4 linked regions of the Homo sapiens genome follow. The protein of the gene in region 4 purifies or fractionates together with the protein of the main gene of each other region. This does not show direct contact. Each region holds a gene or a part of one and is shown on either strand. Other genes may lie near its edges.

Region 1 (7,410 bases), on a different chromosome or scaffold from region 4:
AAAATCAGCTGGGCGTGGTGGTGGGCGCCTGTAATCCCAGCTACTCGGGAGGCTGAGGTGAGAGAATTGCTTGAACCTGGGAGTTGGAGGTTGCAGTGAGCCAAGATCTCACCATCGCAATCCAGCCTGGGCCTGTTGAGCGAAACTGCATCTCAAAAAAAATAAATAAATAAATAAAACATCTTTAATACCCTTCTCAAATGACAGCATCAAAAGCCTGAGCTTGACAACATTTCCCATTATCTTCAGACATTTGTAAAATATTAGTCTTTTTTTTTGAGACCAAGTTTTGCTCTTTTTGCCCAGGCTGGAGTGCAATGGCGCCATCTCAACTCACCGCGACCTCTGCCTCCTGTGTTCAAGTGATTCTCCTGCCTCAGGGCCTGCCACCATGCCTGGCTAATTTTTTAATTTTTAACAGAGATGGCATTTCACCATGTTGGCTAGGCTGGTCTTGAACTCCTGACCATCCACCTCGGCCTCCTAAAGTGTTGGGATTACAGGCGTAAGCCACCAAACCAAGCTGAAATATTAATTAATCCTAAACTAGTTTAAGATGTTCCCAATTTCACCTCCACTCCATTAAAAAAAAAAAAAAAAAAAGGTGGGTTCTTACTGTCACCCAGGCTAGAATGCAGTGGCATGATCATAACCTTGAACTCCTGAGTTCAAGCCACTCTTCTGCCTCAGCCTCCCCAGTAGCTAGGACTCCTGGCCTCAAGTGATCCTCCCACCTCAGCCTCCCAAGTTGCTGGGAATATAGCATGCACAGAGGGTGTTATGTTAGCCATGGATCACAAACATTTGCTGTTAATCATCCATCTTTCTTGTGCTTCAGTGTTCATCATACTCATTATTTAGCTCAAAATGGTAGACCTGAATTTATACTTAGTATTGAGTTACAATTTAAGTTTCCTACAGAGATGCTTTTGGATATTTATAATTAAAAGCAATTCAATTTATCATAAATGAGATTGAAAACTGGTGAGAGCTTTAAGGCACTTAAATTGCTTTACAAAGATTGAGGGCAAATTTTTGTCCAGGGATGTTTTCCCCACCCATCTGCTGCTTAGGTTCACACAAAACATCTAATTGAAACACATTTTCAACGTTCCATACTTAGAGACAAAAAGCTAAAAATCTGATCCTATGTATTCAACCTCTTATGATCTGAACAATGGTTAACAATCTTCCTGAGAAATAGGTTCTAAGAGTAATGGAAAACACTTTAAAAAAAACAAAAAAACAAAAAACAAAACCAACAACCCAAATATGTGATATCAATTTGAGTGGTTGATAAAAGTCTTTACCGAGTAAAAACAGCATGGTCCTTCTGATCTAACACAATGATAATATCGCCTGGCTCCAGTCCTGGTTCTTGGTCTCCTTCACCATGGAATGTTATCTTCTGGCCATCTTTCATGCCTAAAAACAAAACATTAATTTTGTACTTTTATTAAATATCCAACTAAGGTCAGAATCATAAAATCTATACATAGATGTTTGTTTATGCATAAAAATCACAGAAATGACTAAGAAAGCCCACTTAAGTAGTTCAGTCCAATTTGCTCCTGAAGAAAGGTATCATAGTGGAGAACACAAACTCCAGAGGCAAAGAGACTAGCCTTCAAATCTCAGAGCTGCTATTCACTGGCTGGATTACCCTGGGGAAGTAAGCTGCATATCCTTTCCAAGTTTCAACTTTCCCACAGACACCTACACCTCATTAGCAATATTTAGAGTATTAACTCAACAGGTATATGCTGGTACTAAACCATGACTGGCTAACACTGGTTATAACCAAAAAATGTTAATTAAGTATTTCAGTTTCATTACTTATAACACATCAAATTACTTCTATTAAAAGTCTAACAGCAATGTAAATCAAGACCCTTCTATTGTAGTATTTATATATAAAACTAAAAAAATTTTAAATCTATAATCTTCTCTTGAGATAGGATCTTGCTCTGTTGCCTAGGCTGGAGTGCAGTGGCACAAACATGGCTCACTGCAGCCTCCATCTCCTGGGCTCAAGTGATCCTCCCACCTCAGCCTCCCGAGTAGCCAGGACCACAGACCAGCTAATTTTTGAATTTTTTTTTTTTTAATAGAGATGGGGGTTCTCATGTCGCTCAGGCTGGTCTTGAACTACTGGGCTCAAGGGATCCTGCCTCGGCATCCTATAGTGTTCGGATTACAGACCTGAGCCCCTGTGCCTGAAAATCCGTATTTTAAAGAACTATTCAGTATAGTCCCCTTAAAAAAAGGGTAATTATACTTTGAGAGGCCGAGTCAGGAGGATACCCTGAGGATAGCACCCTGGAGCACAGGAGTTCCAGACCTTGTCTCATTTAAATTAAACAAGCAAACAAAACAATCAGTGCTAGACACTCCCTTAGCCCATGTGGTCCGTAAAATACAAGGGGAGGAGTATTTTCTAACAGGGCAAAAAAACACGCCTTTTTTTTTTTTTTTAAACTGAGACTTCGTGCCCCTCACCTCTGACCCACATATTTTAGTTCAGTAAGGGTTTGGGCAACGTCTCTTAGAACATAACTCATGTAAGAAAACCTGTGTTTGTAGAGTATTACACCAAAGCAGTTATCTCCTGATTATTTCCCAAGATCACTCTGGTTACCTAACAGAGCAATCATGTTTCACCTTTACGTATGGAAAATATTAATCCTGTATAAACAGAGCCAACAGTACAATGAATTCCTACATATCCATCCAATTTGGCTTCAGCAGTTACTAACTCATGACTAATATTTCATGTATTACACCCCTACGCATGCCCCCCACATATACTTTCAAGCAAACTCCAACTATATCCATTAACCCACAAATACTTCAGTACGTACCTCTTAAATAAGGACTTAAAGCGCTATCAGTATCATACACTGACAAAATTAAACAATCTGTCTTTAATCGTGTATTGAGGCAAAATAACTTGTTATGCTAGGGAAGCAATTAAACTCAGCTAGGTTTTCCTGAATACAGAGTAAGAGTAGGCACAGCACAAATGCCTTCACTTGCTATATAGTTAGGGCATTAATTTCAAGTTCTCACTTACAGTCCATTGTTGATAGGTTCTTGGAAATTGCTTTAAATGAAATGACACATAACAAGACCAATTTTTTTCCCCTCAGCTGTGTTACAGTGACATGACATTATTTGAGGACCTGCATGACATTATTTGAGGTCATTCTGCTAGAAGTCCCAGTTTCCAAGAACCTATCAACAACGTTAAGACTTACTCTGTATGCTATTGGTATCAAGAACACCTCAAAGTATAAACCTTAGGCATGGGCCCACTAAGGGGTAAACACAGATTTATTAAGTTCAACAACTGGCCAAGGAAACTTATTTTTACCTTTCAATGTACTACATTCTTGGGTGGAACCCTGGGGGTCAGAGAGGCCAGTATCATGAGTCACATGATAGAATCCTATTGCAGCCACTTATGTTAATGTAGATTTGTATATTAATATGGAAATATGTTCAAATATTAACAGTTCCAGATTGGTATCATACCACAGTACAGTATAATAGTAGACCCATTTATAAACAGCAAAATCTGAAAAGAGATTACCATAATGTTGACTTAAGTTTCCTTCTGGGGTTATATACATTTCTTAAAATTTCTGCAGTGTATTGCTGTAATACATTTTAAAATGTTTTTGCAAGTTGACAAGAGTAAAATTTAAAAATTGACAAATCAATCAAATCCCGAGAATACAAAAAAAAGGTTATATAGTTATTTCTAAATCTGGAGCCCAATGGGTTAGGGAAGTGTCAAGTCTAAAAAAATGAAAGGTAGTCTATCAAATCAATTAACGGAGCATTTAAATATAATAGATGGGCAAGTAAGCCAATTAAGTGGGCCAATACGCTTATTTAAACTAGCCCAGGCCAGGTATGGTGGCACACACCTGTAATCCCAGCATTTTAGGAGGCCAAGGCAGGCAGATCATTTGAGGTCAAGAGTTTGAGACCAGCCTAACATGGTGAAACCCCATCTCTACTAAAAATACAAAAAAAATTAGCCAGGTGTGGTGGTGCACACCTGTAGTCCCAGCTACCTGGGAAGCTGGGGCAGGAGAATCGCTTGAACCCAGGAGGCAGAGGTTAGAGTGAGCCAAGATCGCATCACTGCACTCAAGCCTGGGCAACAGAGCAAGACTCTACCTCAGAAAAAAACAAACAAACAAAAACATGCCCATTGGTTTAAAAAATAAACATGAGGCGGGGTGCGGTAGCTCATGCCTGTAATCCCAGCACTTTGGGAGGCCGAGGCAGGTCATCACCTGAGGTCAAGTGTTCGAGATCAGCCTGGCCAACATGGTGAAACCCCGTCTCTACTAAAAATACAAAACATTAGCCGGGCATGGTGCTGGGTGCCTGTAATCCCAGGTACTTGGGAGGCTGAGGCAGAAGAACTGCTTGAACCCGGGAGGCAGAGGTTGCAATGAGCTGAGATCGTGCCATTGCACACTCCAGCCTGGGAAACAAGAGCGAAACTCCGTCTCCAAAAAAACCATGAATTTTTATGAGACCCAATTCTTCACCTAACTCCCCTTTCAAATCCTTAAAAGTATGCCTATCCCTTGATCTAGTAACTCCTAATTAAGAATGTGTACAATTCTAATGTTTTAAAAGATGGAAGAACTATGGTTTAACAGGAGAGAATTAAGTTTGGAACACTATTCAATCATTTACAGGACCACAGATTTCAAAAGATGATCCTGTTATATTAAATGAGGAGATTCCTAATATATTCTGTATTAGTAATATACCAATGTGCAAAATTATGTCTGGATAAAAGAACATTATTTACTAAGCTGCTAAGAGTTATTTCTGATTGATAGGATCATATATAACCTAATTAAGAATGATTTTTAAACAATTATAAAATGTTAATAATAAATCTGCCACAGCATTCAAGACTTCAGAATAAGTAACTCAGAACTCACCTTTGTCAATATGAACTTCTAAAATTTTCTTCTCTCGAACTATCTTCCTTCCGTTGCAGCTTTTACATCTATCTTTAGGACTGATCCGCTCCCCATGGCCCTGGCACTCCATGCACACAGACTGAATTTGCTGAACCATTCCAGGTCCTATCTGATGAATTCTTATTTGCATTCCAGTACCTCGGCAATTGGGACAGCACTCTACTGCTCCTTTCTTACCTCCTCTACCTAAATTTAAAAAGAAAATTAAATAATGTATGAATTAGTAGTGTATACAGTAGTAAATGTTTTAAGAAGACAATTCCTAAATGCTATACTTTTAATATTTTCGAAGCCTGATGGAATGCTACCCTCTGAATGTACAACTGATGAGATCATTCCAATGAGTTTCATTCTTATTAGAACACACTTTCCAATAAATTTTACTTATTACAAAAAAGATACCAAACTAGCTTGATCCCAACTGTATTTAAAATATACACAGAAAAAAGTGCTGATATTTCTTTAGGTGGGAGGTTTTCAGTTGGTTTTCTTCATATCTGCCCTCTCCTCCCCCAAAATCTAGGTAGTGTACATGAATCAATTTTACATATCTATCTAGAAGTCTTAGCTCCATTTTCAGGTGTCATATTAAAGGTGCTTAAAAACAAAACAAAACAAAACAAAAAAACACCGTACCTTCACATTTGTCACAAATCACATTCTTTTGCAGAGCCAGTTTTCTTGTTGCACCATTATATAAGTCTTCTAGGGTTACTGAGAGCTGATGTACAACATTTTTACCTAAAACAAAATATTTCTCATTGCAAATCTGTTTAAGATGCTGGATCTTATTTGTGCTAAAGGCACTATAAAGAATGTGGCAAAGAATAATAAAAGATGAGCCTCACAGGGTACATCTGTTGACTACCTACTATATACACAGAATGTTCACGTTATCACAGATGATCCTCAAACTGTGATGTAATCACAGATGAGGGAAAATCAGGTCAGAGATTAAATATTTGCTTAAGGGCACAGACGTGGCCATCTTGGAAATATGGTAAGCAAAAGCATTACCTTCAAAGTCACTTGAGAAAAACCAATGTTATTTAAAAGGGCACATTTCACAATAATCCAAACATTCATTTCTGTCACAATATATTTTTTGAAGCTTTCACTTCGTACCGTATTGAGCAACATGGCCAATTACTTCATCCAAAAATTCTGTAGCACAGTAAATTCTCATTAATCAAGATTGGCCAGGGAAGCTGATGTATTTATTGAGTCACCACAGAAGAGTATCAATTTCTACTTCTTCCTGATTTAGTAGAAAACAGCCCATTTACTGCTGGGCCAGCACTGGTTGTTTTGAAGGCCAAATTTCTCATACCTTTTATAATAGCATTGCCCAACAGAACTTTCTGCAGTGATAAATGTTTTATATCTGTTCTGTCCAACGTAGCAGCCACCAATCACATGTGCTTATTGAGCATGTAAATGTGGCCATTTAGACTAAGAAACCGTATTTTTGTTTTTGTCTTAAATTAATGGAGCCACACATGGCCAGTGGCTACTAAGGAGTGCCTTACTTCACTTAAATCAGAATAGGAAATGGAAGGTCAAGATCTCATAAGGACACTGAGGTTAGAAGTATGAAGTCACCTGCTAGTAAGTTAGTAAGTTCCTAACTAGTGGTCCTTCCACAAGGACTTATTCACAACAATATTATTGCCTTTCCACCAACTGAAAAAAGTTCTCAAACTCGTTTCTGTACAATATGCCTAATGAACATTTTAACTTTCTAATCAAGCATGAAATACCATTAATTATGTCCTTCTGCTTATAGTTCCACCTTTAGTTTTGGCACGCTAAAATCTAGCTGCCCTTATTTTGAACAGTGTTGAGTATAAGGAAGGAAAAATAAAGCTTCTAGAGCTTGATGAAGCGCATTTCCCCAGAAATAACCTCTCAATATGATCATAAGCCACATAAAAGAGCTTGCCAATGTTAACCTGCAGGTTCTTTGTAAGGTAAGTGAAAAACCACCACTACTTTTTTGTGGACAAATTCTAACAATTTACTAAGCAAGTCATTTGGATTGTGGACTTTCTTTTTAAGGAGTTTAAGTATCTTAATAAAAACATAATCCTTTCCTTGAAGATCTTTAAAGAAAAACTGAATAAACAATTTCCCAAATCTTTCTGAACCTTAAGAAGCTCAAAGTGAAATTTAATGGCTTGGCCATTCATTCTAAAACTGGTTCTGCTCATCAGCCCTTATTTGTATACACTATACTGGAAATAAAGTGAGACTGATTTCTCTTGAACATTTTACTCCTATAAGCAGTATTTCTAGAGCCCATAGGCCACTTTCCTGATAAACATATTAAATACATAATTTTGACACAATAAAGCTGAAACAAGAATAGATAGATGGCAGGCAACGAACCAGTTTT
Region 2 (7,634 bases), on a different chromosome or scaffold from region 4:
GCTCATGCCTGTAATCCCAGCTCTTTGGGGGGCCAAGGTAAGCAGATTGGTTGAGTCCAGGAGTTTGAGACCAACCTGGGCAACATGGTGCCATCTCTACAAAAAAAAAATAAAAATTAGTTGAGTGTGGTGGTGCACGCCTGTAGTCCTAGCTACTCGGGAGGCTGAGGTAGGAGGATAGACTGAGCCCAGGTCAGCCCAGGCAACACAGTGAGATGGTGTCTCCAAAAAAAAAAGGGAGGGAGAAGATAAGAATTCATTTTTATCACCTTTAAATGAGGGGGTGATACTTTTCTTTCTCCACGTAACTATCTTTGGAAATCTCTACCAATACACAATTAAGAAACTTAAAAAAGCATCACAATAAATCAGTTATGGCAGACATCTAAATTTCCAAGTTCTTCTTGTTGAATGAATGGCCAGACCTAAGTCTAGCATCTTCCCACAGGCCCTCAATTACAGGTGGAGATTTCTGGAATAAAAGCTTTGTTTTCCAAAGCCATCTCACAGACATCTGTGACATAAGCTGATCCAAGATGTCTGCCTTTTTCTTAGATATGTCCTCAACACATTAGAGAACCATTCCCGAGGCCTTACATTTGGGAAGAGGGAAAGAGATCCAATGAATGAAAACTATCTGGCACCCACACATGAAGAACATATCCCAACACCTCAACCTACCCTCTGCTTTCTAACCATAGGAATATACCACTTAGAATCAAATCCAAACTCCTTACATTGCCTACAAAGCCTTCTATGATCCGGGTCCTGGATATTTCTCCCTTCTTCATGTAACACTCTAGGAACCTAAGATATTCCTTAAATATTTCAATATTCCAAGCCGGTTCCTGTCCTTGAGCCTTGAGCCTTCTATTCCCTCTACCTGGAATGTTCTGCCCCTCACCTTTTAATGGCTGGTCTCTACCCAAATGTCACCTCCTCAGAAAAGCCTTCTTCACCTGTCACATAATTCTGTCACTATCTGAAATTATCTAATGTTTTTTCTTTCGCCCACGAGAATACATGGTCCTCAAGGGAAGGGACCTTGTCCATTTTTGTTTTTTCACTATATTCCCAGAGATTAAGTGGATGCTCAATAAAGTTATTAAATGAATAAAGAAACAAATTAATTCCAAAACTAGAGCACTGCTCTTGCATCCATCCAATCCTGTCCCAGACCCCAACCAGCAGAAGTAATCAGAAGGGGAGAGAGACTTCCCTTGCACTGATGGTAAGAAGTGAAAGATAAAGGGTTGTAGGAGCGGAGAGACGAGGTCCATTAGGATCCTCTGAAAGCATGTCAAAAAAAAAAAAAAAAAAGAGAGAGACACACACAGAGAAAGGCCAAAGATATGACTATGTGGGCCCAAGGTGAGAAAAAGAGCAATTGGTGGAATCCAAGACTAAAGGGTCCCCTTCTGTGCCTCCAAGGAAGAATAATACTTGTGCATCTACCATGTGGCAAGCACAGGTGGGATGGCACCCACCAGGGAGAGAGAAGTAAGCAAGACAGACAAGGTCCTTGCTCTCAAACAGCTTACATTCTAGCAGTTGAGAAAGATAACAAGTAAGCAATAAGTAAGTGTTAGTAAATGCTATGAAGTAACTAAAACCAGGTGATGTTGATGGAGAGCCATGGGAGAAAGGTCCTAGACAGGTTGATTAGACAGCCTGATCAACATGGTGAAACCCCGTCTCTAATAAAAATACAAAAATTAGCCGGGTGTGGTGGCGTGTAGTCTCAGACCTGTAGTCTCAGCTATTCGGGAGGCTGAGGCAGGAGAATCGCTTGAATCCGGGAGGCGGAGGTTGCAGTGAGTCGAGATCGCGCCACTGCACTCCAGCCTGGGAGGCAGAGCGAGACTCTCTCTCTCAAAAAAAAAAAAAAAAAAAAAAAAAAAAGAAAAGAGAAAAGAAAAAGAAAAAGAAAACAAAAGAAGAGGTTGGTTAGGGGAGGCCTAAGGTGAGGGAAACTTGGGAGAGGCGGCCTGCCTTGCAAAAATGTTGGTACTTCCCCAGCAAACAAAAGGCATGTGCAAATAATTTTAAATCGGAATAACCCTGGAATATGGAAGAAACAGAAAGCCACACTGGCTAAGGAGAAAGATGGGTGGGAGAGATGAATAAACAACCGTCAGCTCCCAGGGAACCTTTGTAAACCACGGTAAATAACTCAGCGCATCCTCAAAGCCACTTTCCGAGGTAGATTCTGTTATTAACCCCATTTTGCAGCTAAGGAAATGGAGGCTCAGTGAGATGAGGTGACCAGCCTCAAGTTACACCCCTAACGAGAGGCTACGTCTGGAATGAACCCAGGCGATCTAATTCCAAAGTCTATGCTCCGAACCACCACAGCACAGCGTTTCTCCCAAAACGAGGGAACCCTCCCCCAACCCGCGTTACAGGGGATTTCTATGTCCCGGGTGTACCGACTAGAATTCTCACAAACAATTCAGCAAAGTGAGATCACGATGCCCGTTTTACAGTCAGGGATACAAGTACAGAGGTTAGAGAAGGGTGAGTTCGGGGGCTTCACTAGAGTTAGGGCAAGGGACGACGCGAGGCAGCCGCAGCTCCACGCGCCCGCAGTCCCCGCCCGGGCAGGCCTCGCCGCCGCACACTCAGCTCGCGCGGCTAGCAGCCACCGTCGCAGAGAATGGACATGCGAGCGCGACCAATAAGGAGCGGCCTTCCCGAGCGGAGAGGCGGCGGCGCAGCCAATCAGCGCCGTGATGGAGAGGAAAGGGCGGGCAATCCGCAGGCTCGCGTTAGGCCGCGCCTCAGTTGCCCTCAGCCCTCACAGGCCCTGGGGTCGCCGCACCTGGGCCAGAGACCTAGGATGCCGCGAGGCGCGGCAAGCGCTCCCTAGGGAAGCCGAAGACCTTGCCTGAGCGCACCACCCGAACCCCGGGCCCACATTCCGCTCTCGCCCAGAGGCGCGGTTCTCACTCCCTAGCGCTCGTTAGTACCGGGAGCGCCTCATCCCTTCCTCAGCTGGGCCCCAAGAGCCACTCTGGTAGGCCGTGCACGCCCCGCGCCTCACCTCGTGGGGATACAGAAACGGAGGAGGGAACCCCAGCCGCGGACCGTAGCTGGCACTACCCGCTCCTGCCGCCGCTCCGCCTCACATTCAAACCCCGGCAAAATGGCGCGACAGCGAGCCTGAGGCCAGAGCGCATGAGCGAGCGGCCCGCTGCAGGGGGCGGGGCCAGGAATGCTCTGGCCCCACCCAAGTTCGAAGGGCCAATCGGGGCCCCGCTCTGTTTCTGCGCTGATCTCACAAGTGACAATGCTCTTTGGCTCTGACCATGCCAGCAGGCTTCACGGTTCTCGTTTTCCAAAGAGGAACACAGATTCAGCGAGCGGCTGCTGGCTTCTGACCCATTTTGATGTCAGGGCTTGGCACGTAGGAGGTGTTCAATGTTGATCGATCCAAGGTCGTGCACATAGGGTCTAAGACGGAAGAGAACTTCCTGCCCCTCTTGGAGCTTCTATTTTAGAGGGAGACACGGCCAGACAGGTCTCGAACTCCTGGCCTCAAGTGATCCGCACACCTTGGCCTCCCAAAATGCTGGGATTCCAGGCGTGAGCCACCGCGCCTGGCCTGGTATGTAAGTTTTGGTACTCTTATTACAGCCCACAAACCATATGGGATCTGGCCCCTGCCAGCCTGCCTGCCCTCATCACCTTCCGCTTCCCTCCTCTCCTCACCCTCACTCAGCTCCGCCACCCCACCTTCTTCCTGTTCCTCTAAGCTCCAAGCTTATTTCCACTTTAGAGCATTTATACTTGCTGTTCCCTGTGCTGGGATGTTCTAGATTCCTGAATGATTGGCTCCTTCTTTACATTTAGGTTCCAGCTCAAATGTCACCTCCACAAAAGAGGCCTATCTGAAATTGCCCACTCACCACCACCCAGCACACAAATTAGGGTTGCCAGGTTTAGCAAATAAAATGCAGGCTGCCCAGGTCAATGTAAATTTTAGAAAAAAATTTATAATTTTCTAGTATAAATACTGTGTAGGACATATTTATACTTAAAAATCATGCATTGCTTATCTGAAATTCACATTGAACTGGGTGCCCAGTGTTTGATCTGGTAAGCCTAGTTCCATGATATCATTATGGTATTTATCACTCTCCAACTAATTGTCTCTTCTTTATTTTGTTCCTCCTTCCGCTTCTCCCCTCCTAAACCCCTGCCCTCCTCCCCATCCATAACCTAAGGGATTCTATACAGCAAGGGCTTTTCTTTTTTTTTTTTTTTTTTAAAGACAGAGTCTTGCTCTGTCGCCCAGGCTGGAGGGCTGGAGTGCAGTGGTGCTGTCACAGCTCACTGCAACCTCTGCCTCCCAGGTTCAAGCAATTTTCCTGACTCAGCCCCCCAAGTTACTGGGACTACAGGTGCCCGCCACCATGCCCCGCTGATTTTTGTATTTTTAGTAGACACGGGGTTTCACCATATTGGCCAGGCTGATCTTGAACTCCTGACCTTGTGATCCGCCAGCCTTGGCCTCCCAAAGTGCTGGGATTACAGGCATGAGCCACCACGCCTGGCCAGGGCTTTTTTTTTTTTTTTTTTTTTCTTTTAAGAGGCAGGGTCTTGCTCTGTCACCCAGGCTGCAGTGCAATGGCACAATCATAGCTCATTGCAACCTCGACCTCCTAGGCTAAAGCAATCCTCCCACCTCAGCCTCCTGAGTAGCTAGGACTACAGGCACCTGCCACCACACCTGGCTAATTTTGAATTTTTTTGTAGAGATGAGCTCTCACTATGTTGCCCAGGCAAACTCCTGGCCTCAAGTGATCCTCCCACCTCCGCCTCCTAAAGCACTGGGATAGGGCTGGGCATGGTGGCTCACGCCGGTAATCCCAGTGATTTGGGAGACCGAGGCAGGCAGATCACCTGAGATTGGGAGTTTGAGACCTGACCAACATGGAGAAACCCCGTCTCTACTAAAAATACAAAATTAGCCGGGTGTGGTGGCGCACGTCTGCAATCCCAGCTACTTGGGAGGCTGAGGCAGGAGAGTCGTTTGAACCCGGGAGGCAGAGGTTGCGGTGAGCTGAGATCTTGCCATTGCACTCCAGCCTGGGCAACAAGAGCGAAACTCCATCTCAAAAAAAAAAAAAGCCCCGGGATTACAGGTGTGAGCCACCACATCTAGCCCCATATTGATGGTATTCACAGCTGTACCCCCAGCACTAGGCACACAGTAGCTGCTTAATAAATGTTTGTTGCATGTTGAATGAAATGCCATATATAAATAAGTGAAGTCCATGGAGAAAGATACATGAGTGAAAGACATTGGTGAGGCCGGGCACGGTGGCTCATGCCTGTAATCCCAGCACTTTGGAAGGCTGAGGCAGGCGGATCATGAGGTCAGGAGATCGAGACCATCCTGGCCAACATGGTAAAACCCTGTCTCTACAAAAATACAAAAATTAGCCAGATGTGGTGGCATGCGCCTGTAGTCCCAGCTACTCAGGAGGCTGAGGCAGGAGAATCGCTTGAACCTGGGAGGCAGAGGCTGCAGTGAGCCGAGATCGAGCCACTGCACTCCAGCCTGGGTGACAGCGAGACTGTGTCTTAAAAAAATAAATAAATAAATAAAATAAAAATAAAAATAAACCATGATGGTCAGAAGACGGTGGAACATTTTAAAAAAAAACAAAGACATTGGTGAAAAAGATGTATTTTTACTATTGCAGCAATAGTACCAGTAATCACCAGTAATCATTTTAATCGTTCTAATCTGCATTTTTTTTTTTTTTTGAGACGGAGTCTCACACTGTTGCCCAAGCTGGAGTGCAGTGGTGCGATCTCGGCTCACTGCAAACTCCACCTCCTGGGTTCACGCCATTTTCCTGCCTCAGCCTCCCGAGCAGCTGGGACTACAGGCGCCCGCCACCATGCCCAGCTAATTTTTTGTATTCTTAGTAGAGACAGGGTTTCACCGTGTTAGCCAGGATGGTCTTGATCTCCTGACCTCATGATCCGCCCGCCTCGGCCTCCCAAAGTGCTGGGATTACAAGCGTGAGCCACCACACCCGGCCCACTAATCTACTTTAATATAATTAACATGTTCCTCTAGTCCTAGGGAGAATGAGCCTGATGACTTTACCATTTTCCACCTCTAAGAGCCAATCGCAAAGGAGGCTGGCTGGCATCTTGTGTCTGTCTAGCATCTCTACCAGTTTCTGTAGAAAACCCTCAAGCTGTGCCAAGACGATCATGTCTGGACACAGCTCTTGGTGTCACGGGGTGTCTCCTCCTACTGCCTATCGCCCTTTGCAGCCACCAGAATAATCATGCAGGTGAGAGCCACAGAAAGGCTGAGTGTCCTTCTCCACTCTGCATGGTTCATGGGTGACAGCTAAAGATTCCCTTGGGAATCCTCCCCATCCCAGCTCCACTACATGCACATACTCTTGGGGCGTGCTACAACTCTTAACAGACTGTGTTGGAAACCAAAGAAAACAATTCATCCACTTCAAGGAGCAGGAGACTAAGTACTCATTCATGTAGTTTCCTTTCTTTCTAAACCCTTATAAAACAATCTGTCTAGGTTGGGCATGGTGGCTCACGCCTGTAATCCCAACACTTTGGGAGGACAGGATGGGTCACCCGAGGTCAGGAGTTCGAGACCAGTCTGGCCAACATTGTGAAACCCCATCTCTACTAAAAATACAAAAATTAGCCGGGTGTGGTGGTGGGTGCCTGTAATCCCAGCTACTTGGGAGGCTGAGGCAGGAGAATCACTTGAACCTGGGAGGTAGAGGTTGCAGTGAGCTGAGGTCGCACCACTGCACTCCAGCCTGGGCGACAAAGCAAGATTCTGTCCCCCCGCGCAAAAACAAAAAAAACCCCAATCTGTCTAATGTAAGGAAAGACATTCTGAAAAGACACATTGTCTATGGTGTGCTCCTTGAGGAAGATAACTTTACATTTTATTTGGATCCAGAAGGGCGTGGACACATCTGGTTATGCTGGGAAAGAACAAGTCTTATGTCTCAATCTCGCTTTTAAAGCCCAACTGAGATGCAGAAGAGTGTTAACAGCTAAACATTGAGAAGTATCTGATTGTTGTTTCTTATCTTTTTTAAAATGGAGGCACTTTAATTTTTTTTTTTTTTTTTGAGATGGAATCTCACTCTGTTGCCCAGGCTGTACAGTACAGTGGCGCGATTTTGGCTTACTACAACCTCCGCCTCCCAGGTTCAAGCAATTCTCCTGCCTCAGCCTCCCAAGTAGCTGGGACTACAGGCGCCCACTACCACACTCAGCTAATTTTTGTATTTTTAGTAGAGATGGTTTCACCATGTTGGCCAGGCTGGTCTTGACCTGACCTCAGGTGATCTGCCCACCTTGGCCTCCCAAAATGCTGGGATTACAGGCGTGAGCCACTGCACCTGGCTTATTTCTGTTTAAATATATGTTTATATGTTATAAAAATCTACACGTTTGAGACTAGCCTGATCAACATGGTGAAACCCCATCTCTACTAAAAATATGAAAATTAGCCGGGCGTGGTACTGTGTGCCTATAATCCCAGCTATTTGGGAGGCTGAGGCAGGAGAATTGCTTGAACCCAGGAGGCAGAGGTTGCAGTGAGCTGAGATTGCACCATTGCA
Region 3 (7,410 bases), on a different chromosome or scaffold from region 4:
CCATTTCCTCTCACTGCTTTATTTTCTTAATATGTATTTGTTTTTTCTCATCTCTTCATTAAAAAAACTTAATGTAAAACATTAACATGTGACTGTTTCTCATTGCTAAAAAAAAGAAAAGCAAACAATACATATGAAATTCAAGCTCCTTTCAACTATCTCTCTTAATCTCGGTCCCCTCCCCAGAAGTACTTTAGTATGCATTTGGTTATGTATCCTTGTAGCGTTCTTCTCTATGGAATTAAATACACAGGTATCTGTAGAAACAAAAAGTGTTTTAGGCCTGTTCTGTAACAAACTTCAAAATACGCCTTAACTTTCCTAGTCATTATACAGATTTTGTTACTCATTGTGATATATAGGTCTATTGGTGAACATTTAACATAATTACCATTTTGCACCATCACGAACAATTCATTTAACAAATACTTACTAAGTGTCTACTACATTCTAGGCTCTGTATCTGTATCTTGCAGATACAGCAAAAAATAAAACAAAGATCTTGCCCTCTTGGAGCTTGTATTCTTGCAGGAGGAGGAGGACAATAAACAGAATAAAATACATAGTGTAAACTTTTTTTGAAAAGGGACAGAGAGTAAATATTTTAGGCTTTGCAGGCCACATATATATGTCACGTATTTTTTGCTTTGTTTCATAACCGTTTAAAAATGTAAAAACCATTCTTTTGCTTATAGGATGTACAAAAACAGGGCAGAAGCTCATGGAGCTGTGGCTTGCTGACCCCTAATATAGTATGTTAGAAGGTTGTATGTGCTATGCAAAAAATAAAAAGGAGTCCAGGATAAGAGTGGGTGGGGAAGGGCAGGATAGAATATAGTATTAAACAGGGTATTCATAGATGGTAAGATCTGAGCAAAGACTGGGAGGTAAGTCCATTGAGCCAAGCAGATATGTGGAAGAAGTACATTTCAGAGAGTGGAGCCAGCAAGAGTCCTAAAGTAGGAACAGGACAGACATAGCAAGCAGGCCAGTGAGTAAGGGGAGAACAGTGGTAACAGTAAATGAGGTCAGGAAGGTAAGGAGAAAGTGGAGTGGATTGGGCAGATCATGTAGAGCCTCACAGGACCAGCTTTTCTCTGAGTGAATGAAAGGGAATGTCTTAGTCCATTCGGGTTGCTATAACAAAATACCATAAATGAGATAGCTTATAAATGACAGAAATTGATTGCTTACCATTCTGTAGGATGGGAAGTCCAAGAGCAAGGCATATTCAGTATCTGGTGAGGGCTGCTTTCTAGCTCACAGACTTCTTGCTGTGTCCTCAAGAGACAAAGGGCAAGGGATCTCTCTAGAGTTTTGTTTTGTTTTGAGACAGAGTCTCACCCTGTCACCCAGGCTGGAGTGCAGTGGCGTGACCTCAGCTCACTGCAACTTCCGCCTCCTGGGTTCAAGCGATTCTCCTGCCTCAGCCTCCCGAGTAGCTGGGACTACAGGCACGTGCCACCACGCCCGGCTAATTTTTTGTATTTTTAGTAGAGACAGGGTTTCACGGTTTTAGCCAGGATGGTCTCGATCTCCTGACCTCATGATCCGCCCACCTCAGCCTCCCAAAGTGCTGGGATTACGGACATAAGCCACCGCACCTGGCCTCTAGGACTTTTTAAGGGCACCAATCCTATTCATGAGGACTCCACTCCCATTTCCTAATACCTTGGGAGTTAGGATTTCAACAGTTTGGGAGGACACATACATTCAGATCGTAACAGGAGCCATTGCAGGAGAAGTGACAGGGACTGTCTTAATTTGCGAAAGGTTTATTCTGGCTACTGTATTGAGAAAATACTGTTGGAAGGGGATAGGGCAGAAGGGGCAGACCAGGTAGTAACCTATTTCAGTAATCCAACAAGATGTGATGGTAGTGGCTTGGACAAGGGTGGTGGCAGTGGAGGAAGCAGTGAGGCATGATAGGATTTTCGATGTATTTTGACGATACAGAAAACAGATTGTCCTGAAAGAACAGATCTGAAGAGTAAAAGAAAAAGTGAAGTAAAAAAATAAGGCCAAGATTTTGGTCTGAGCTACAGGAGGACGGAGTTGCCACTGACAGAAATGGGAGAGTCTGTGGGTAAAGCAGGCATTGGGGAGAAAGTTTAGGAGTTTAGTTTTGGATATGCTGACTTTGATGTCTATTATTAAACATTTAGGGGAGATGTTGAATAGGTAGTTGCACATGTAAGACTGGAATTGAGGAGGGGGCTAAAGATCTAAATTTGGGTATTGTTGATATTTACATGGTATTTCAAGCCATGAGACTAAATGAGATTACCAATAAAGTGAGCATAGATAGAAACAAATAAACAAACAATTAAGACTTGGGGCTCTCCAACATTAAGAGGTCAGTGAAAATAAAGGAAAAGGAGAATTACAAGGACCAGCACTGAGACAGCAGATAACCAGGAACGTGTGACGTCCTCGAAGGCAAAGAAGAAATGGTTTCAAGGCTAAGGGAAGCAAACAGCTGTGTCAAATGCTGCTGACAGGTCACATAGGATGAGAATCAATAACACAGGGCATTTAACAATATGGGGGCTACTGAAGAACCAGAGGAGCTGTTTCTGTGGGAGTGGTGCAGACAAAGACCTCACTAGAGTGGGTTTAACAGAGTACTAGAGGAGAGAACTTGGCAATAGCAAGTACAGACAACTATTTTGAGAAATACTGCTCCCAAAGGAAACAAAAAATTGGGGTAATGTGGTGAAGTGGGACAAGATTTTTTCCTAAGAGGGGAGAAATAATAGCATATCTGTTTGCTGATAGAAATGATTCAATAAAAAGAACAAAATTGATGATGTGGAAGAAGAGAACCTGAAGCAAAGTCCTTGAGCAGATGAGAGAGAATGGGGCCTAGTACAAAGGCAGACAAGAATATGAACAGTTAATCTAAGGTAACAGGCAGGAAGACAGCCATGTACTGAGCAGATGCTGCGCAGACCCTTTCATAAATAGAGTGCCAGAGGTATGTGGAGTGGTGGCAATCTATGGAAGTTCTGATTACTTCAATTTTCTCAGCAAAGTGGGAAGCAAGGTCATGAGCTGAAGGTGAGGATGGGAAAAGAGATATAGAAGGTTTGGGGAAAATAAGATATGAAATAGTCATTTAGAGGAGTGGAAGAGTAAGCAGACTAGGAAAATACAGTACAACCATCAGGCAGCATTACAGACCCACTTAAGGTTTGTGGCCATGTGTGGTTGTGTGGTTTTTTTTCTGGCCATGCTCAGTTACATAGGGGCAAGTGCAAAAAAAACCCCAGAGTTTGTTTTAACTAGAGCTCTGGTTTTGCCAAACAAGCAAAGAGCAAGGAAAGGGATCCAAAGAAGTAATTAAACTGATTAATCATGAAATTTAGATGAGTAAATTCCACATAAAAGGGAGTGAAAACATCAAGAGGGTAAGGGGCAGGGGAGCAGTAATAGGATCAATGGGTTGGAGATTCCATTGGGGTCAGAAGATGGTTAGGGCTGAGGCACTAGGAGTGAGCTGCAAAAATAGGAAGAAGCGGTAACAGAGCAGAACACATGAAATGGCAACTATGGAGGGACTGCAGTTATTGACAGTGCACGAGGGTATCACTGTGGAATGAGTGGCTGATATAGCATAGATGGGAAGAGCACTGGAAGAGAGGTCTAGGAAGTGAGAGGCCAGGGTTTGGGTGGATCAGTTATGTACATTCTTATCAATTTCAATATAAAGACTGGAGAGTGGGACAGTGGGCCTTTATGACATAATTCAAAACTGAAGATTATAGGGAGAAAGGAGGAAGCATAGTCTGAAAGAAGTAAGAAGACTCATGACAGATATCTTTCCCACCTCTAGAAACAGTGGGAGGAAAGTTACGGAGCAAACAAACAAAAACAGCCACAACTGCACAGTGGAAGAGAGTCCGGTTTCCATTACAGCAAGAAAGTGAAAGCAACATCTAAGAATGGTTCAGACTGGATTTTGCAGATGATGGATAGTTAATTTCACAAAGTACAGTAGAAGGGTATGAAAAGTTGAGAAGAGGTTTAAGAAAAAGCATAGACCCCACTCCAGCCTGGACAAGAGAGCTAGACTGTGTCTCCAAAAAAAAAAAAAAAAAAAAAAAAGTGTAGACCCAGGCCAGGCCGGGCGCAGTGGCTCACACCTGTAATCCCAGCACTTTGGGAAGCCAAGGTGGGCGGATTGCCTGAGGTCAGAAGTTGGAGACACGCCTGCACAGCACAGTGAAACCCCATCTCTACTAAAATACAAAAAATCAGCTGGGCATGGCGATGTGTGCCTGTAGTACCAGCTACTCGGGAGGCTGAGGCAGGAGAATTGCTTGAACCCAGGAGGCAGAGGTTGCAGTGAGCCGAAATCATGCCACTGCACTCCAGCCTGGGCAACAGAGCGAGACTCCATCTCCAAAAAAAAAAAAAAAAAAAGTGTAGAACTTTTTATGAATGGAATGCCAGAGACAAAATGTGAACAGGAAGTCTGGAGTTTCTGTGGTTACTAACAAGGACTAATCCTAGCACACATGACTCCTGATATACTCACGTGTTTCTCTAAGAAATGGAAACTGCTGGGTCAAAGATATTTTTACTTTAAAATAGCCGTACCGATATATTCAATGTTATCCCTACAACCTTCTCAATACATACTAACAAAACTTTTTTCTCTTTGGCCAGTATAATGAGAAAAAAAAAAAAGTCACTGCTTTACTTTGCATTTTTCTGCTGGTGAGGTAAATCATTATTCCATGTTTACCTGCTAGCCATATTTCCTCTTCTGTGGAACTTGCCCACTTAAAAAACTGAGTTGTTTTCCCTTTTAAATCGATGTAGAGTGCTTTAAAAATCTATTTTATTCTGCTCTTAATGATTCATACAAATCAATCTTCTAGATTCGTTTCATATCTTTCAATGGCTCATGATAGGGTGACATAAGGCTCAGTAGGTTCTCTCTCTTCAACATCCCTCTCTACTATATATTAGAGTTTGTCTAATTAAGACCTTAGTCAAATCTGGCCATACCATTGGTTTCATAACTGTTTTTGCACTACAGTGGTAGAGATGGTATGGCCCACAAAGCAGAAAATATTTGCTACCTGGCCCTTTACAGAAAGTTTGTGGACCCCTGCTATATACCTTTCAGGGCCCCTGAACCGCTTAAGAGTTCCAAGAACACAGCAGATCTTTATGTTTACTGACACACTCACTGAAATGCTGTTCCTAGTTCCCAAAATGCTCCAGACATTCCCCCTAATCTATTCAACGAATCTATTACTGGCCTTTCTTGGTGTTTTTACAGATTTATATCACAAAAGCTGTAAATACACTTATTGAACTTGTTTATTTACATATCTCTTTCTCCACTAGTATGTAAATCTCTCGACAAGAGATAATCCCAGCACTAATAAATGGCACAAAAGTCCTTCATGGTTTGCTAGCTCTCTCATCATTTCCTAGTTCTGCTATGCTCCAGTCAAAATATATATTTAATTTCATTAAATATTTTTCAAAAACACAATTTCAAATGGTAGCATAATAATCAATAGTTCTGTACTTTTATATTCTTATCTTTAAAATCTTGTTGGATACCACCTATTCCTAATAATTTATTTGCATTTATTTAGTATATTCATGATTTGCTGAAATACTTCTCTTCCTTAATTCCTTTCTTAGTAAAAACAAAAGTGGTGGAATCTTATCCTTCCTAGCATTAACTTTTTCATTTGTGGTAGAAACATATGCATCTAGGATAAAGGGGCTCCACTAATAAATTATTTTACTAATGGCTTCGGAGTCATCTATAAAATGCAACTCAAATATGAATTTTTCTCTAATTTTCAGTATAAATTTAACTTCCTACACCTTGTAGGCAGTTCTATTCTCCTTATGTGAAACACATATTTTTTTGCTTGTTTCCCCAGTAAAACCTTCATTTACTTTACCAGGAGTTTTACTAAACGTATATTTCAATTTTAGCACTTACGGGCCTTTTCATTTCTCTTATTCCCCAAATTTAATCAAATTTGAGATTTCTTTGGTTTTCTCTCACCTATTTGTGTTAAGATCATTAAGAATTGCACCCACAGATATTTGGTGCATTCACTTTAGAACCCGGTTTTATATAGTTGTTACCAATTATATCTCATCCAGGTAAAGATTTTCTTTTTCTAAAATGTGGAAAGTTAAGCCCTGTCTTGTTTAACTTTGCAACTTACCCATTCATTATTCCCAGCTCAGTTTAGCTATCTTAAAAATGTGGTCTGTGATCTATAGTTAGTTATAGTATAAAATTCTGAATATGTATATGATATAAAAGTATACAAATAAAACAGCATGATGAGCTTTGCAGTCAAGCAGATCTAGATTCAGATTCAGGCTCGAACGCTCTGAGCCCTTGGACAAAGTACTTACCTATTTACACTTTGTTTTCTCATCAGTAAAATAGAAGTAACTTCCATGTATAACACAGAGCCAACATAATAAATGAGAAAAATGTACATGAAAGTGACAATGTATGTTAAATGCCTACAAATGATGTCTAGTACATTACAAGGAAAACGTTAATCCACTCTCTATTCCTCCAATCCCAAAGCAACAGGAACAATACTGTGTAGTCTCAATTTATTATATTAATAAGTTCATTATTAAATTCCCTTAAGTAAAAGCAATTTGCAGTATGGACCATGAGCTTTGGATGTTTACTTTGACTCAGTATTTTTGCTTTGGGGACTCTAAATAATCCAGAATGCAGAAATTGATTTTTGTATGAGGATGTTCATTGCAGTGTTTCTTATAACTGCAAAAAAATTAGAAACTGTTTAATAATGAGAAATCCACACAAACATGCAAACATTAAATATGGTGACAAAATAATTAAGTAGCATAAGAAAATGCTTATGGTGAGAATACAAAATTACTCACATAGTAAAGTCTCAACTGTGAAAAAAATCCAATAAACTCAGAAAAAAACATTGGAAGGAAATGCGCAAAAGGGCTTACAGTAGTTACTACGTAGTACTGATATTTGTAATTTTTATTTTATGGTTTTCTATAGTTTTCTGAAATAATTAACAGTGATAATGACATTGATGATAACAGCAGTTATTATTTATAGAAAAGTTAATACATGTCAGGCCCAGTTTTAAGAGCTTAGTGTATTAACTCATTTAATCCTCATAACATAAGATGAAAAAGTGAGATTAAATAACTTGCCCAAGGTCACACAGATAATTACAGAAGGTGCCAAAATCTGAATCCAAATAGTGTGGCTCCAAAGCGCCTGTTCTCTACACTACATTGAAAAGTTTTGCTTTGTTTTAAAAATTTAACCATTAAAAAGGCATATATCAATCCCAACTTTATGGTCTCACGGTTATCAGCTTTTTTTCAGTACTGAGTTGTAATATTCGCTCTGGC
Region 4 (7,410 bases):
TTACAGGCGCACGCCACCATGCCTGGCTAATTTTTCTATTTTTAGTAGAGACCGGGTTTCACCATATTGGTCAGGCTGGTCTTCAACTCCTGACCTTGTGATCCGCCTGCCTCAGCCTCCCAAAGTGCTGGGGATTACAGGCGTGAGCCACTGCAACCGGCGGCTTTAATTTCTTGTCTGCTACATCTACAGCAGACTCTCAAAGGATGGGCAATAGTCAAACAATGTAAAGCTATGTTCCAGAAAAAAAAAAAAAAAATCATCCAGACATCACAGAGGATGCCAAGCTGAATTTGCACTATTAAAGAAAATGGCAAGAGGGAAGCACAACAACCAGAACTTTATAATAAGGCCTACTCTTAAGCAGATGACAGTCTTTATTGCTAAAGACAAAGAAAAACAAGGATATTGTCCACAGATCTTTTCTCTTAAAAAAATAATCAAAGTAGGACCTGGGATGTTAAAAAGAAAGAAAAAATACTTTAAAATGAAAAGGACCAGGACAAGAATTCAACATCAATTTGGAAACCTGATATGCTATAGAGTGCATTCATATCTTCTCCATCACAACTCTGAGAAGGTGGATTATTCTAATTTTACAAATATAAAAAGCAGCTCAAGAGTGAAGTAACTTCTCCAGTGTCTCACTACTGGTATAACATGAATCAATAATTTTGATTTCTCACTTCTTCATAAACAAAGCATGAACTCCATTTTGAATGTAAATAACAGTAGAGAGGGTCACCACTTTTCCCATCTCTTTAGGAAAAGATTTAGATGAGCCAACCCTAAAGGGGTGGACAAACCTAAAGATGACCTTGTAGTGCTGTACCTAAAACTTAAATGATTCTGAAAGAGCTGGAGGCATTAAGAGAAATCAAGTCATTGACCAACTAAACTTATCACACCACATAAAGGATAAATGTAAAATGTGTTAACCTAGAAGCAATCAGGTTTTTAAACCTATCCTACCTAGAAGAATTGCTTTTAATCAAGCTTGTAAATGAAGAAGTTTCTGTTTCTGAAGAGAATGAGGGTATTTTATTCTTCAAAAGCCAAATGGAGGTAAGCCCAGCCCTGCAGAAACAGAGGAAAAAAAGTCTAAAGCATAGTAAAAGGGATACAAGAAACAAGTCTGAAGCAGGCTTGGAGAGTGCAAAGAAAGATGGCCAGGCATGGTGGCTCATGCCTGTAATCCTAGCACTTTGGGAGGCCAAGGTGGGTGGATCACCTGAAGTCAGGAGTTCGAGACCAGCCTGGCCAAGATGGCAAAACCCCGCCTCTACTAAAAATACAAAAATTAGCCAGGCATGGGTGGTAGGCACCTGTAATCCCAGCTACTCGGGAGGCTGAGGCAGGAGAATCACTTGAACCTGGGAAGCAGAGGTGGCAGTGAGCCAAGAATGCGCCACTTCACTCCAGCCTGGGCGAAAGAGTAAGACTCTCTCTCAAAAAAAAAAGATGAAGTAAGCATGTAAACATACACCTGGCAAACCAGACAGCAAAAAAAGAGAAGCTAAACTTGATACAAAACTCAAGGGCCAAAAGGAAGGGGCCACGTGAGGTGTTTAAAAAAAAAAAAAATATCCTGTGAAGAGCTTGGCCAAGTTTTGGGTTGTTTTGATTGAAGACACAAGAAGTCCAACAGTCAGATCTGCAAGGGACTAATGGTTTCATCACAGATTTGAACATCGGGAAAACTCAGTAATCACTAGTGGCCTGGCTTAGATGTAAGACACTTATGTAACAAGTTGTGAACCTCTTTTAAAAAATTATGCAACTGACCAATTATTTCACCTCAAAAATTCTGAGATAACCAAGTCTCAATGTCAGAACCCACTATGAGCACACTAGAAGTCATGCATTTTGCAAACACTACCCTTACAGACTAGAAGGTCCTAGAGGAGAAAAGCAGAAACAACATTTAAGGTTTTAGGTATGTTTTTGCTCCACCGGGGCATAATGTAGTTTTGTACTGTTAACAGTATATATTCTGAAAACCAAGTCCAATTGCCTTACCACTCAAACCCAACCTCAGTTATTTCCCAAAATACAAAGTCCCATGTAAATGGTGAAGTATTTAAAATAGAGTCCTTTTTAAATAGTTACCTGACTGAAAACAAACCTTTCTCATAACTTGAGCTAATTAGGAGACCTGCATGCTTACTGGAGAATCTTAGGCATGACTACATTTTAACATAATCCCAGGACAAACTAGTGTACAGTGGATAATCTCATACACACACACACGGCCTCTTGAAGGCTCTCAGCCAAACACTGCTCTGAGCACACCCCAATTCTAGAAGCGTGGACTTTCGGGTACCTATCCCAGAAAAACAGCACAGAAGCTGTGGCCAGTCTTGCGTCCAACACTATTTTACAGAAACCAAAGTCACTGTGAAAAAGAGCCACATACTTGAAGGTTAGGCAAACTCCACAAGCACTGAAATGTCAATCTAACCTTTAACCACAACACATTCATTTCCTTATTCAAAAAAGGAACTGGGCGGGCATGGCACAGTGGCTCATCCGTGTAATCCCAGCACTTTGGGAGGTCAAGGTGGGTGGATCACTTGAAGCCAGGAGTTCGAGATCAGCGTGGCCAACATGGTGAAACCTCATCTCAAAATATAAAAATTAGCCAGGCATGGTGGCAGGCACCTCTAATCCCAGCTACTTGGGAGGCTGAGGCAGAAGAGTCACTTGAGCCTGGGAAGCAGAGGTTGCAATGAGCCAAGATTGCACCATGGCACTCCAGGCTGGGTGACACGCAAGACTCCATCTCAAAAAAAGAAAAAAAAAAGAAAATGAACTGATTCATACACCAGTCATAGCAGGTATCCCATATTTCCCTTTTTTTTCTTTAAATGCTTTTATATAAGCATGGGAAACTGAATCCAAGAGATTTTAGAAGACAAATTCTCCCACCACAACGGGCTGGGGTGGGGGCAGAGGGCAAAGAATTATATTGATTCTGAAGACCAAATCATAACTTTCTTACATAACTGCATAAAATTAATCAGATTACTCTACTTATAGCTTTTTGATACACATTGATTCATGTGAATTAGAGCAGGTATCGCAAGTTTGTAACAAGGAACTGAAGTTCAAAGGGCCTTGTGTCCAAAGTTCATTGACAGAGTTCCCTCTGTGACCTCTCTTCCTCAAATGAGAAGCCATCTCTCAATTGCAGACAATCTACAAACCATAAGAGCACAATGCTACATCAAAGCAACACTTCTAAAGAAATACTACTGACTACGTGATTTTTAAACTTAAGAATTAAATTTGCACTAGCCAGTCCACCACACAGAAAAATATTTTATTCTTTTTTGGGAGGAAGGGTAGAGGCAGGGTCTCACTATGTTGCCCAGCCTGATCTCAAACTCCTAGCCTCAAGATCTCAAGAGAACCTCTCCCCTCAGCCTCAAGTGCTGGACTACAGGTGTGAGCCCTGGCACTCCAACCAGTAAAGAAAATGTACTGTTTCTTTAGGAATGTAACAATCTAAGTCACAGCCAAAATAAAACTGTTCCCAATCGTATTCCCTAAGGAAGTGGCATCCAAAAATAAGCACACCTCCTAGCTACTTATGTATTTACTTAATCTTCACCTAGCACACAAAACAAAGGACCAGGAACCAGGGGGATAATATTTTGTGTGTGTGTGTGATGGATTTTCGCTCTTGCTGCCCAGGCTGGAGTGCAATGGCCTGATCTCGGCTCACCACAACCTCCGCCTCCCAGGTTCAAGCAATTCTTCTGCCTCAGCCTTCCGAGTTAGCTGGGATTACAGGCATGCACCACAATGCCCAGTTAATCTTTTATTTTTAGTAGAGATACGGTTTCTCTCCATGTTGGTCAGGCTGGTCTCAAACTCCCGACCTCAAATGATCCTTCCGCCTCAGCCTCCCAAAGTGCTAGGATTACAGGCGTGAGCCCCCGCCCCAGCCCTGGGGGAGCATCTTAATAACCACTGTTTGTTGCCTGCCTGGCATCCAATCCTTGTCCTCCCCTTCCTAAAAGCACTCCAGGTTTTTGTTTAGATAGCAACCATGTTTCGAGAGAAGCTCCCTCCACATTTGCTCAAGGGGTTGTGGCTTAGCTCTCAACTCATGTGCATAACCCTATGTACCCCTATTAATGGTTGTGGGTAAGCAAGTGACCCCGTTATGGCCAAGAGATGACAGAAGTCATTTTTAGGCTCTTCTAAGCTTTACTGAGTGGCTCTAAGATGTGAGCCACAAGCCATTCTGCCAACATAATGAAGCCAGCCTGATAACAAAGTGTGCGAGTGCACACAGGGGAGAACAGAGCAGGGGAGCCTGGGCTGCTCAATTAAGTCAATCCTACTGTGGCCTTTTAAGTCAGAGGAGCCAATACATGGCCATACAGCTAAAGCCAGCCCAACTTGTGTTTTCTCATACTTGCAACCAACATATTCTTTCACAGAAAAACTACACACAGGCTGGGTATGGTGGCTCACAGTTATAATCCCGGCACTTTGGCAGGCTGAGGCAGGTGGATCGCCTGAGCTCAGGAGACCAGCCTGGGCAACATGGCAAAACCTCATCTCTACCAAAAATACAAAAACTTAGCTGGGCATGGTGATGGGTGCCTGTGGTCCCAGCTACTCAGTGGCTGAGGTGGGAGGATCACTTGAGCCTGGAAGGTGGAGGTTACAGTGAGCTGAGACAGCACCACTGCACTCCCACCTGGGTGACAGAATGAGACCCTGTCTCAAAAGAAAAAAAAAAAAAAAGAGCCAGGCGCGGTGGCTCACGCCTGTAATCCCACCATTATGGGAGGCCAAGGCGGGCGGATCACCTGAGGTCAGGAGTTCAAGACCAGCCTGGCCAACATGGTGAAACCCCGTCTCTACTAAACATACAAAAAGTAGCCTGGTGTGGTGGCAGGCGCCTGTAATCCCAGCTACTGGGGAGGCTGAGGCAGGAGAATCGCTTGAACCAGGGAGGCGGTTGCAGTGAGCCGAGATCACGCCATTGCACTCCAGCCTGGGGGACAAGAGCGAGACTTCGTCTCCAAAAAAGGAAAAAAAATAAGAGCTACACACAAAAAAAGCAGTCTATTATAAAAAATAAGTATTATGTATAACTGAGGCTACTGCTTCTGACAAAGCTACAATTTTTTCATTAAAAAAAAATTTTAAGACACGGGATCTCACTATATTGCCCCAAGCAATCCTCCTGCCTCAGCCTCCCAAAGTGCTGGGATTACAGGCATGAAAAGTTAAATAGAAATTTAATGCTTAGGGTTTCTCACTGTAATCCACACTAAGGTATTTTGAACAAAGTCTCAAACTCAGTAATAATTTTTTGCAGCCAAGTGAGTCACAAACCAGCTCCACCAGTCTCCAGGTAGAATATGATTTCTGGCCATTTGTTTCTAAGTCACCTGCCACTTGGCCCACACATTTACAGTTATGCTCAGTTCTCCTTTAGTGTACGAGTCCAAAATGGCCACACTGAAGTGAGACATATAAAGAGGGCTTGGCATCAAGATGTATCAAAAGTGAGGACTTAAGGGCATCAGACTATTTTTCCCACCTGTCAATTCTACTTACATTTACTCCAATTAGGGAAAGAAGATGAAGAAGGAAATACACACCAGAGTTTATTTCAACACAAAAAAAATTTTTAAAAAGACAGAAAATAAACTATTATTACTTCCCTTCATTTTAAGCACTGCCCACATTGAGAAAAATCCAAAAAATACTTAAAACTTGACCACCAACACAATGAATGCCAGAGCACTCACTATGCCAGGCACAAAGCTAAGAGCTTGTACTAGAATCTGTGGTAGTTATCCCTATTTAAGTTAATTAAGTCAAGGAGCACAATGGTGAATTAACACCTGGCTTCACTGTCTCCAGGACCATAAAGGTAAGAAGTAACAGAGCCAAGATCTGAACTCAGGCAATGTGGCAGTAGACTCCAACTCACAATGACACTGGGTAAACATCAACCCTAGCCAGATTAAAATGATTTTTTACTCCCCTTCTTTAGTTCCAGGAATCAAAAAATATACTGATCTAAGGATACTACTGAATATTGAAGAAACACCATCCTCTTTGCATTTATCAAATCAAAAACCAGCAGTCAGTATTTTGGCTTCCTTCCTTTTTTGGAAAGGGGAAGACAAGTCTGACCCTACTATTTACAGTAGAGGTAACCACCCACTCCATTTTATTGAATTCTGTCCTTGCTGAAGTTCAACTTACATTTACATTATCTTCCAAATCCTTCTAGCCACATTCCAACCAAACCAATTAACTCAATTTTCAACTTTTCAAAAGCCCTCTGACAACTAAAAGCGACCCTCTGCTGGGTTTTTAATCTCAATCCTGACCTTCTTAATGAAGGTCAGGATTGAGATAAACACCTAATGAACTTCTTGGTAGTTATCAAGAAGCTGGTAGGAGTGCCAAATTGTCCCCAGGCTGCACAATAAGCCATTTTTACCTTGTCAGATATTATACAAAATACAGGAATGCTGCCTGCTGCCCACTTAGAAGTATCCACCAAATTTTTCCCCCCTTAAATTATATTTAAATATTTAATCAGAACTATAACCAATATCATTTAAATTTAGTACTACTTACTGCTGCATGCACTTGTGACACCACCTTGCTAATTTTATTGGTTCTATTTAAGGTAACCAATTATTCCTACAGCTGTATGCCTGTTCTCTAAAGACCACACCCTGAAAAAGAAAAAGTGTGAGGCTATCCAGAGTATTATCCACACACTCCTTGAATCAAATAAGAAAACGTTGCACTATCAAATTCCACAAGACACAACTTACCATTTCTATTAGGCAAGGGATGTGTTTTCACTGTACAGAAACAAGGTACAAAATAAAACTAGTTCAGACTAACAATCTAGCATTTACAATAATCCAAGAATCATATGTGATGTTTTCTAAAAATAAAATTAATGTTCCTCCTTAAGTTTTCTGAGCAGGAAAACAAACAAATTGTAAACATTTTTAAATGAAGTAATCAAATTAAGGATTATTTCAGAGTTCAACTGCTGAACCCATCTTCTTACACGAAAAGTTAGCACTAACGAAAACTGCTAGGTTAGTCCTAAAGGGACACATTCTACAAGAACCCAACAGGACCAAAGCCAGAGGACAATCCCATTTTATACGGCCTAGGCTAAGAACCTGGCACATAAAAACACTAAAAATGTGTTGCCTTCCCCTTCAAGCACAAAGCAATACCAACAAAAGCAAAAGAATAAACCATGGTACTGCCACACCATAGAGTAATACTAGCCAATCAAAAGGCACTGAACTATGCACACCTGCAATGCGAACTCGATGGGTGAACCTTATCATAGTAACTGGAACAAGCCAGACACAATAGGCTACAAGGACTGCACCATTC

Evidence for each region.
Region 1: the proteins of HAPSTR1 (region 4) and DNAJA1 purify together in Homo sapiens (affinity purification with mass spectrometry, with the first as the bait; 2 studies listed by BioGRID). This does not show direct contact.
Region 2: the proteins of HAPSTR1 (region 4) and CSE1L purify together in Homo sapiens (affinity purification with mass spectrometry, with the first as the bait; 2 studies listed by BioGRID). This does not show direct contact.
Region 3: the proteins of HAPSTR1 (region 4) and TNPO1 purify together in Homo sapiens (affinity purification with mass spectrometry, with the first as the bait; 2 studies listed by BioGRID). This does not show direct contact.

The regions. Positions count from the first base shown.
Region 1 is NC_000009.12:33,028,231-33,035,640, reverse strand, and holds part of DNAJA1 (dnaJ homolog subfamily A member 1), read right to left. Parts: intron 5,757-7,410; coding exon 5,652-5,756; intron 5,202-5,651; coding exon 4,974-5,201; intron 1,426-4,973; coding exon 1,311-1,425; intron 1-1,310.
Region 2 is NC_000020.11:49,041,833-49,049,466, reverse strand, and holds the start of CSE1L (exportin-2), read right to left. Parts: upstream 3,156-7,634; 5' UTR 3,044-3,155; intron 1-3,043. UniProt on the Homo sapiens protein: Export receptor for importin-alpha. Mediates importin-alpha re-export from the nucleus to the cytoplasm after import substrates (cargos) have been released into the nucleoplasm.
Region 3 is NC_000005.10:72,819,606-72,827,015, reverse strand, and holds part of TNPO1 (transportin-1), read right to left. Parts: intron 1-7,410. UniProt on the Homo sapiens protein: Functions in nuclear protein import as nuclear transport receptor. Serves as receptor for nuclear localization signals (NLS) in cargo substrates.
Region 4 is NC_000016.10:9,094,592-9,102,001, reverse strand, and holds part of HAPSTR1 (HUWE1-associated protein modifying stress responses 1), read right to left. Parts: intron 1,078-7,410; exon of another isoform or gene 973-1,077; intron 1-972. UniProt on the Homo sapiens protein: Acts as a central player within a network of stress response pathways promoting cellular adaptability. The E3 ligase HUWE1 assists HAPSTR1 in controlling stress signaling and in turn, HUWE1 feeds back to promote the degradation of HAPSTR1.